2 separate regions of the Homo sapiens genome follow, and region 2 is reported to be linked to region 1. Evidence: microRNA targets listed by miRTarBase, many of them from high-throughput screens and not tested one by one. Region 1 holds a microRNA gene; the other region holds the end of a gene's coding sequence.
What was found. Region 1 holds the annotated microRNA hsa-miR-4466 (GGGUGCGGGCCGGCGGGG, at 3,327-3,344, opposite strand). A microRNA usually pairs through its seed, bases 2 to 8, with sites in the 3' UTR of a target mRNA and lowers its output. Matches are read on the target gene's strand: a 7mer-m8 pairs with bases 2 to 8, a 7mer-A1 pairs with bases 2 to 7 and ends in A, and an 8mer does both.

Region 2: the mRNA of WDR17 is a reported target of hsa-miR-4466. Seed matches in the 3' UTR shown: 7mer-A1 at 3,156-3,162.

What each region holds. Positions count from the first base shown.
Region 1 is chr6:156,776,384-156,781,458 of GRCh38, forward strand. MIR4466 (microRNA 4466) reads right to left here and starts at 3,348; the gene lies at 3,295-3,348. It overlaps ARID1B (AT-rich interaction domain 1B), which reads left to right and starts at 995. Exons shown (of 20, transcript NM_001374828.1): 1 at 995-3,088. The coding sequence starts at 1,298. It overlaps LOC115308161 (a long non-coding RNA gene), which reads right to left and starts at 2,135. Exons shown (of 2, transcript NR_163974.1): 1 at 1,863-2,135; 2 at 1-1,048. RefSeq lists silencers at 719-1,068, 1,089-1,328, 1,479-1,628, 1,699-1,768, 2,019-2,248 and 3 more and an enhancer at 2,212-2,747.
Region 2 is chr4:176,178,750-176,183,824 of GRCh38, reverse strand. WDR17 (WD repeat domain 17) reads right to left here. Exons shown (of 29, transcript NM_181265.4): 29 at 1,010-4,365. The coding sequence ends at 4,246. Among named protein-coding and RNA genes, the nearest start is that of SPATA4, 14 kb to the left of the region's middle.

The DNA.
Region 1 (5,075 bases):
ATTGAAGTTATATTTATTAAATATAATGTCTATAATATTTTAGTTTCGTTCCACATCTCTTTGAAATGAATGTATATCGAGAGGGTTAACTGTGCACACGAAGCTCTGAAACATGATGAAAGGTGTCATATAGATTTATGAAGATACGAGCTAACCCATAGCTGTCGCTGTTCTGGCACCAAGAGTTAAATGTTCATGTGAAAGTTGGCGCAGAAAACACCACTGTACATACTCCACAGAGGACATCCAAGTGCATGTAAGAAAAATGCTCCTTTGGGAATACGTGGACATATTCCTTTGGAAATACACTGACAAACCTACATACGTGTTTAAGGTGCCTTCAAAAAGAGTTATGTAAACATTCTCTTTGGGGCGGGTGCAGTCAGTCATAAGCATTTATTGAGTACCTACTGGGTACAGGCCATAGGGCTCTCTGACCGGGGCTAACCTTCATTTCAAATCTTTCCTAATTTTGCAGTTGGAAGAAGTTGTGGGAATTACGCCGATGGCCCGAAATCAAGGCAGAGGCGAACGTTCTGAAAATTACATAACTCCTGGGAGAGACCGTGCTTTTGCAGATTGCCTAAATATTTTCTTTCTCCGTCGGCTCCTTGTAACCTCTGAGGCCAATAGACAACTTTGTTTCCCAGCCCTTCTCCCTCTTTTGTCTGCTCGTCAGACTCGTTTTCCACCTTTGTATCGTTCCTTTTAGACGTGAAAACAAACATGCGAACGCCCGGTTGGCAAGGAGACAGCGGCCCGGGGGGAAAGTGCAGGTTCCGGCCGCCCCACGCCGCCGCGCTCCGAGCGGCCGCCGAGCCGCCCCGGCCCCGGCCCCGGCCCCAGCCTTAGCCCAAGCCCGGCTGGGTCCCGCGAGGCTGCGCCGGGGCGGGCGGCGGCGGCCCGGGGACGAGTCCAGTCCGCGTTTTGCGAGTGCGCGGGAGTAATGCGAGCGAAGTGGATAATAGTTGCTCGAGCTCGCCCGCTGCCTCTCAAGCCATGCTGGGCCCGATAGGCTCAGCTAGTCGTGTATTTACCCATATCCGGGCTAGAGAGGAAAAGAGAAAAGTTTCATTTAAACCTGAACTAAAAACTTTCACCATGAAAGCACACAGCAGGAGCAGGCCCAGAGCGTAAGGCGTGCCCGGCCCGGCGCTCCGGCGGGGCCTGCGGAGGGGGAGGGGGTCGCGGCTTCCCGGCGGGCCGCGTGGATGCGCACAGGAGGGGCCGCGGCCTGAAAAGTGGGGGTTATTGTCTCCCCCCGCCCCCCGCCCGGCCTCGCCACGCCGCGGCGATCATGGCCGCGCGGGCAGCAGCGGCGGCGGCGGCGGCGGCGGCGCGGGCGCGGGCGCGGGCAGGCAGCGGCGAACGGCGGGCGCCCCCCGGGCCGCGGCCGGCGCCCGGAGCCCGGGACCTGGAGGCGGGGGCGCGCGGCGCGGCGGCGGCGGCGGCGGCACCGGGACCCATGCTGGGGGGCGGCGGCGACGGCGGCGGCGGCCTGAACAGTGTGCACCACCACCCCCTGCTCCCCCGTCACGAACTCAACATGGCCCATAACGCGGGCGCCGCGGCCGCCGCCGGCACCCACAGCGCCAAGAGCGGCGGCTCCGAGGCGGCTCTCAAGGAGGGTGGAAGCGCCGCCGCGCTGTCCTCCTCCTCCTCCTCCTCCGCGGCGGCAGCGGCGGCATCCTCTTCCTCCTCGTCGGGCCCGGGCTCGGCCATGGAGACGGGGCTGCTCCCCAACCACAAACTGAAAACCGTTGGCGAAGCCCCCGCCGCGCCGCCCCACCAGCAGCACCACCACCACCACCATGCCCACCACCACCACCACCATGCCCACCACCTCCACCACCACCACGCACTACAGCAGCAGCTAAACCAGTTCCAGCAGCAGCAGCAGCAGCAGCAACAGCAGCAGCAGCAGCAGCAGCAACAGCAACATCCCATTTCCAACAACAACAGCTTGGGCGGCGCGGGCGGCGGCGCGCCTCAGCCCGGCCCCGACATGGAGCAGCCGCAACATGGAGGCGCCAAGGACAGTGCTGCGGGCGGCCAGGCCGACCCCCCGGGCCCGCCGCTGCTGAGCAAGCCGGGCGACGAGGACGACGCGCCGCCCAAGATGGGGGAGCCGGCGGGCGGCCGCTACGAGCACCCGGGCTTGGGCGCCCTGGGCACGCAGCAGCCGCCGGTCGCCGTGCCCGGGGGCGGCGGCGGCCCGGCGGCCGTCCCGGAGTTTAATAATTACTATGGCAGCGCTGCCCCTGCGAGCGGCGGCCCCGGCGGCCGCGCTGGGCCTTGCTTTGATCAACATGGCGGACAACAAAGCCCCGGGATGGGGATGATGCACTCCGCCTCCGCCGCCGCCGCCGGGGCCCCCGGCAGCATGGACCCCCTGCAGAACTCCCACGAAGGGTACCCCAACAGCCAGTGCAACCATTATCCGGGCTACAGCCGGCCCGGCGCGGGCGGCGGCGGCGGCGGCGGCGGCGGAGGAGGAGGAGGCAGCGGAGGAGGAGGAGGAGGAGGAGGAGCAGGAGCAGGAGGAGCAGGAGCGGGAGCTGTGGCGGCGGCGGCCGCGGCGGCGGCGGCAGCAGCAGGAGGCGGCGGCGGCGGCGGCTATGGGGGCTCGTCCGCGGGGTACGGGGTGCTGAGCTCCCCCCGGCAGCAGGGCGGCGGCATGATGATGGGCCCCGGGGGCGGCGGGGCCGCGAGCCTCAGCAAGGCGGCCGCCGGCTCGGCGGCGGGGGGCTTCCAGCGCTTCGCCGGCCAGAACCAGCACCCGTCGGGGGCCACCCCGACCCTCAATCAGCTGCTCACCTCGCCCAGCCCCATGATGCGGAGCTACGGCGGCAGCTACCCCGAGTACAGCAGCCCCAGCGCGCCGCCGCCGCCGCCGTCGCAGCCCCAGTCCCAGGCGGCGGCGGCGGGGGCGGCGGCGGGCGGCCAGCAGGCGGCCGCGGGCATGGGCTTGGGCAAGGACATGGGCGCCCAGTACGCCGCTGCCAGCCCGGCCTGGGCGGCCGCGCAACAAAGGAGTCACCCGGCGATGAGCCCCGGCACCCCCGGACCGACCATGGGCAGATCCCAGGTAACCCTCGCGCCAGCCGGGCCTGCTTCCGCCCGGCGGCCTCGCCGCGCCGCGAGCCTGAGTTTCTTTCTTTGCCGCGTACTTTTCCCCGTCTTCCCGCGGGGGCGGCGGGGGCGCGGCGCCCAAAGCCATCTTGACGGGCGGCCGCCTCCCGCCGCGGTCGGGGCGCCCCGGGGGCCGGCGCGCTGTCCAGGCCTGGGAGGGCTTCGCCGGGCCGGGCCGGGCCGGGTGGCTTCTACCCCGCCGGCCCGCACCCGCGTCCCCCCCCTCCCCCAGGCCCGGGAACGCGAAGCGAGATCCCGAGGCGCCACCCGCGCGGTCGCCGTTTGGGGCGGCGGGGACCGTTCGGGTGCTTTTGTAACAAATAGGCTCTCCCGGCCAGGACGGCTGGGGCGAAGAGCCACCCGATCGGTTCTGGGAGCGCCCACAATGTGCTTTAACGGGGGAAAGAATGAGGAACTTTCTCACACCTTTAGCCACAGCACGTTCCCTCTTGGCTTCCGAGGTCCAGGCAGGGAAAATAGGTTAGCTTTGTGACAAGCGAGTGGGTTTTTCCTACTTAGGGAGAGCCATTCAGAGACACTCGGTGCGGGCTTCGAGCTCGAACGTTTGCTGGTAGGAATAATAACAAAATTTACAACGACATGGAGGTGCAATATTGTAAAATACATCGATTCGTTCCTTAGAATAGCCAGGGAAATCCATTATTGGGCTTACGGGCTGCTTGCAGGGAGTCACCTTCAACAGGCAGGCTATGTGAAAGGAGCACGTTCCGGATCAATTGAACTTATTTTGATCATGGATTAGGCATGCATTTTATTCAGCAAATCCAGTAAGATAGCAGACCAGTGAAAATTGATCTTTTGGGATCGTATTTATTTGGATTTTCTTTATTTTGCTGTCACCCGAGTCCTACAGCGCTGTTAGGAAGTGTCCTGCACTCTTGCTGTTTCTTGCTAGTAGGCTGAGCCTAAAGACTGACTTGATCTCCTTTGCAAGGTTTGGAATTTGAATTGTGGAGGTAAACTGGCTGTAATAGTCTCCAGACAGCTGCCTCTGAGTTGACATCTAATCTGCCATCTGATTGGCTCCCCTCTCACCATTGGGCATTTAGCACTGCTGATGTAAATAGAAGTGCTGAGCAGTACAGTCACAAAAATTCTTGCCACAAATAATAACTGAGCTCTATTACAAGCAAATGTAAGGTTCAGTATTTAAAGCTGAAACTATTATGAATCATAGTTATTAATAAGAGGATCAAATACAGAAAAACAGTTCGCTGGTGTCCAGTATTGGGCATTTACAAAATTCAGATCTTTGATGATAGTCTTAGAATATGCACATTACATATATCATAGACTTTAATTGGAGGCTGAGGATAAGGCCATTGAAAAATAAGTAAACCACGAATTTTACCAATTTTTGGATTTGTAAAGCCTTTATAAAAGTCTTCCCTTTACAAATTCAACTATGGAAAAATTTGAATTCTGTCAGCACACGCAGCTTAATAAAACCTTAAAATTTTTTTAAGATTTTGATAGGCAGCAATATATTTTGGTGATGTGTAATTCACCTGATAAACAAGATTTAAGCTTCATTTTTTTGTGATTTATCAGTTCTGACTGTTCAAAGATATTTGTGGATGAGGAGTTTTGGTTAGAATTGACATATTTAAAAAACGAAATGAGGAAACCACATATTTGTGCAGATAACAATAATTAAAAGGGGAAAAATGAGATATTCCTGTGAAATACTAAGAATCATTTCATATTTGCTTTTGATGTGGAGAATACAGAAATGCCCCATAATCTTTTTTTTTTCTTCATTGTTTTGTTAGATTAGGTAATTTGAGCCTTGTTTGAACTGCTTACACGATGAATTAGGGAAACTATATTCTAAGCAAGTTGTGCTGGGTGTCTTTTTTTCCAAATAATTTTTCTTTCATGTTAATGCTATGAAAGTTTAAAAAATCCTAATCTGTTAGAGA
Region 2 (5,075 bases), not on the chromosome of region 1:
CAGTTTTATCTGAGGTAAGAGATCTAGGTCAAATGCATATCTTAATCAGCTATAAGTAATGTATCTGTTGTCTTGCACTCTCATGGGACAATCTAAAGTACAAAATTATGAGAATAACTTTTAACCTATATAGTTCCTTTGGAAAAGGTTTGAGAAACAAGTCTCTGAAGCTCAGCCATGAAAAAGATCCAGAGAAGAGGATTAATTTTGGGTAGAGTCAAATAATAAGTTTCTTTGTCCTCCTGGTGCTGTGTTCAATCTCCTGAAAGAGCTCATCACTCATGGCCCGACTATGGTAAGTTCCCAAGAATCCTGAGGGACCTATAGAGACTGGAAAATAGGAAATAGTCTGTAGGCTTCATTACATAGTGATTATGTAAATGAAGATACAGGATGGTCAAAGTGGGTAACCTCAAGAGTTTCTTGAGGATGAATTGTGCAACAGAAGCCAACACTACAGGCATATCTTAGACCATTTACTTCAAAAAGAATCTTTGACAGAAGGAAGCAATGAAATTTTCTAGGAGCTATAGCAGCTGCTATAGGAATAAAACATTTTCTTTTTTGTTTTGTTTTGTTTTTATTTTTGGTTTTTGAGACCTAGTCTTGCTCTGTTGCCCAGGCTGGAGTGCAGTGGCGCAATCTCAGCTCACTGCAAGCTCCGCCTCCCGGGTTCACGCTATTCTCCTGCCTCAGCCTCCCGAGTAGCTTATGGGAATAGAAGCTACTATGACATAGCATTTGTATTAATGAGTAAGCACTTTCTCCATTTTTATAGTAATTTTGGGGTATACTGTAGTCAGTGTTTCTATAGTGAAGAATCAGCCTCTGGAACAATTCAATGAAGTGATTTTCCTAGGTTACTGAGTAGGGTAACAACTCAGTTGGACAGCTTAGCCCTTTCACACCTCTGATGACTCTGATCCAAGCATTTATGGAGAAACACTTGTCTTTCAATGGTGTCTCGGGAAAGAAACAACTACTCATCTTAGCCGGTAACTATGTCATATCAGGATTTAACTGTAATATTTATTAAAATTTCAAGGACCTGAAATACGTACATACATATAAATCTAGATAATGACATGCCAAATTATAGCACAGTCATGATATATAATTTTAGCATGAAAGTACATATTTCATTTATGTACAAATATCTCAAAGATTTGGTACAATAAGCATTAATTAAGAGTTGACTATAAAGATGTCTTCTATATTACTGATATACTAAATATGAACTACTAAATTTTACAAATAATTTGTGAGGCTTTTATTATATTCAGAATACCTTTTGACTTAAAACTGAAATAATATAAATGTTATAAGGACAACAAAATACAGTCATTGCTCTAATGCAATCATGTTCCTGAACACATCTGGACAATTTCATAGAAATATATATATATATATATATATATACACACACACACGCACATATATATATTTCATACATACATGTATATATATACACATACATATATATTTCATTTGTCTTGATTGACATAAAAATCATATATTTTCACAAGATGTAACTATTTTGATGTTGTAATTTTGTGAACCACCTAGTTACTAACTTTTACAGGCAAAATATTTTTCCAATGCTTTAAAAATCATTGTCTAATGAGACTCTTCCTTTACAGAGGCATATTTAAACCTGCAAAGTAATTTGTCCACATTATTGGTAATATGAACATTTTCAAATAGTAAAATAAATTCATATAATTTGCTTGGGTTTCATGCATATGAAATCTAATAAAAATACTTTTATGAATTAAAAAATTTGTTTTTCATATTAAGGTACAATATATACAGATTGACATAGTCAAATGACATTTATAATTCTATGAAAAATTAATAGTTATAGGTAATAAGATATAGACATTGTAGAAATCAAAGATAATAGAATGATGGTCAAATCCATCCAATTTAGATTTCAGACAGAAATTGGGTGGCTATTCTGTTGTATTTATGTGCTTAAAGACTTGCAAAATTTTTTCTTCATCTTTTATACATAAAAATATTATTTTCCTGCATTCATTAAAAATACAGAAGTAATGATTGTTTATATACTTAATGATATCCTTTTAAGTATGTAAGCACAAAAAGATAGGCTTATTTATTTATTTTAAAATAAAAAGAATGACAGTAGGATTGAGACTGCCATTTTTAAGTGAGGGGTTTTTAGTACATATGTGCCAGTTAATAATCCTCCTCACCTAAGAAAAATTTGAGTTACAGATATCTCTAAGAGTTTAAAAAAATACATCTCAGGTACTCTTTTTATATTATCCATTGCATCTCTGAGTTGTGTATATTCTCTTCTATAATATTAATTATTTTTATATATATAATTTTTGGAGATGGTGGTCTTGCTCTGTCGCCCAGGCTGGAGTGCAGTAGTGCGATCTCAGCTCACTGCAACCTCCGCCTCCTGGATTCAAGCGATTCTCCTGCCTTAGCTTCCTGGGTAGCTGGGACTACAGGTACACACCACCACACCCAGCTAATTTTTGTATTTTTAGTAGAGACAGGGTTTCACCATGTTGGCCAGGATGGTCTCCATCTACCGACCTCAAGATCTGCCCATCTCGGCCTCCTGAAGTGCTGGGATTACAGGCAATTTTTTTTTTTTAATAAAATGGAATTTAAGCCTGTAATGTCTTTTTAAGGAATCAAAAGTGGTCATGTGATAAATATGATACATAGATACATAATATATATTTTTTCCAGTTTTAAGAAGTTTTGTTAAGAAGGTTTTAAAAATATTTTAAATGCAACAAGTTTAAAGATAATAAAAGCCACAAGTATTCTAGTTATATGAGATTATTCTTTAGTCAAACAAAACCATCTATATTATAAATCTTGTGAAACAACTTGAGTATCAAAGTACTTCCAGTATGCATTAATTTAATAAGTTTCAAAGTCAGAATTCTAGTCCAACTGAAATATCTGTAGTCACATTATCAGGCTTTTCATAGCTTCACACTTTTAAACAACATTTTAAAAGTTAAATCAACATAATATATCCAAAAATTCAACCAATATCTATTTACAAACATTTACTTAAAACTAATTTTCATCAAATCAATTGTGGTTTTTGTTGGTTTGTTTTTTGAGACAGAGTTTCGCTCTTTGTTGCCCAGGCTGGAGTGCAGTGGTGCGATCTTGGCTCACTGGAACCTCTGCCTCCCAGGTTCAAGGGATTCTCCTGCCTCAGCTTCCCAAGTAACTGGGATTACAGGTGCCCGCCACCATGCCTGGCTAATTTTTGTATTTTTAGTGGAGACAGGGTTTTACCATGCTGGCCAGGCTGGTCATGAACTCCTGACCTCAGGTGATCCACCTGCCTTGGCCTGCCAAAGTGCTGAGATTACAGGTGTGAGCCACCGTGCCCGGCCAAATAAATTGTGTTTTAAATAAAGTTAACATAAATTGACTAGAGTATACTGTGTAAATTATTGTACACATTAATCAAAACTAATATCCATGCATGCTGAATCTCTTAAAATAGTCACTTTATCACCTAATGCAAGTTTTCATATATATATTCGACTGCATTTTGTGATTTTTACCCGCCAATTTTTTTCAAGCCTATATAACTTACACCTTTACAATGGGACAGTTAAACTTCAGATAAAAAAACTGGTAACATTTTCTTTTTTTTAAAAGTATTTTGAATGTGTATCCATTTATTAATATTTACTAAACTTATAACTGAAAACTTTTATTAAAACAGCTAACGTTAGTGGTTTACTATGCATTTTATAAAGGAGAACGTAAGTGTTTGTTAAGTTGAAGATCACTGTGCACACCTTACATTTCAACATTTCAAGATATTCAATCATTCAAATATCCATTAAGTACTTACTGTATGTCTAGCACTATTCTAGGTGTTGCACAATTTAATATGTTTCAATATTTCAACCATATGATATTTTGGTATCTTTTATGCTGTGTGAAACTTTTATATGCTTTTTAGATTATTCAGTCCTTTATAATTTAAATGTTTCCTCCTTCCCAAACGTAGCTATTACTGTTTATAAAGGAGGCACCTATTTTTCCTTTAAATTATATATATATATATATTTTGAAGTTAATGACTAAAATTCACTGCTATTTCCCACCTCTCCCAACCTGCAATCCTTCTCCCAACCTCTGGCACTTGAGCAACAAAGATTAAGGTAATGCTAACCCATGAAAGTTTTTCTTTAAAAAAAAAAATCAAGCATGGACAAAAATCTTCTATCAGAATGGATTGAGTCGTATTCCAGTCCCTAAAGGTGAGAATGGATTCACCTTTGCCCACATCAAAGCATCATTCAAGGAGATAGCAGATTTCCCGTCTTCAAGGAAAAACACAGGGCCCTGCACAGTGAGAGTTGAGGAAAGAGAAGATGAGATTATAAATTTGCAAAGTATTTTTAAACTTTCAGAAAGAGAATCACTGCAATAAAAAAAAACATAATATTTAGGCAAAGCTAATAAAAAAATGAAGACTATGAGAAAATTAGTTTTTTTGAGCTGGACCCAAATATAGAAACATTTTCAAATGTCTTAACATTATGTCATTATACCCTAATATCTGTTAAAATAGAATTGTTTACAATTTAAATTCTTTAAATACAATAGTAATGCCAATGACAAATATGTTTTGTTAATCTGGTAACTGCCACAAAGTTTACCTATTCTATAAAAGCATATATGTCTAGTAATAGGCTTAAATATATTTCACTATTTTACTCATGTAGCCTATGTCGATACAGCTGGGGAAATTATTTAAGCCAGAAACTTTATATGTGCTCTCCAGAAGATGATGAATATTGTTCTATATTGTATATATCGTTTAAAATATGTTTAGCCATGTGATTTTCTTGCTTATTTATAATTTAGTTGCATCAGTTATGATATATGCCAGGGTAGTTATAAAGAACTAAATGTGAAATGTTTTCAGTCTATATTACCTAGCTCTGATAAGGAAAAGCATAATTTCAAAAACACAAGATGCAATACAAATTATGTTTTCTTAATTAGGTTCTAAAGCTGTTGAGTTTGGGGTCTGATTTCAAATGATACAA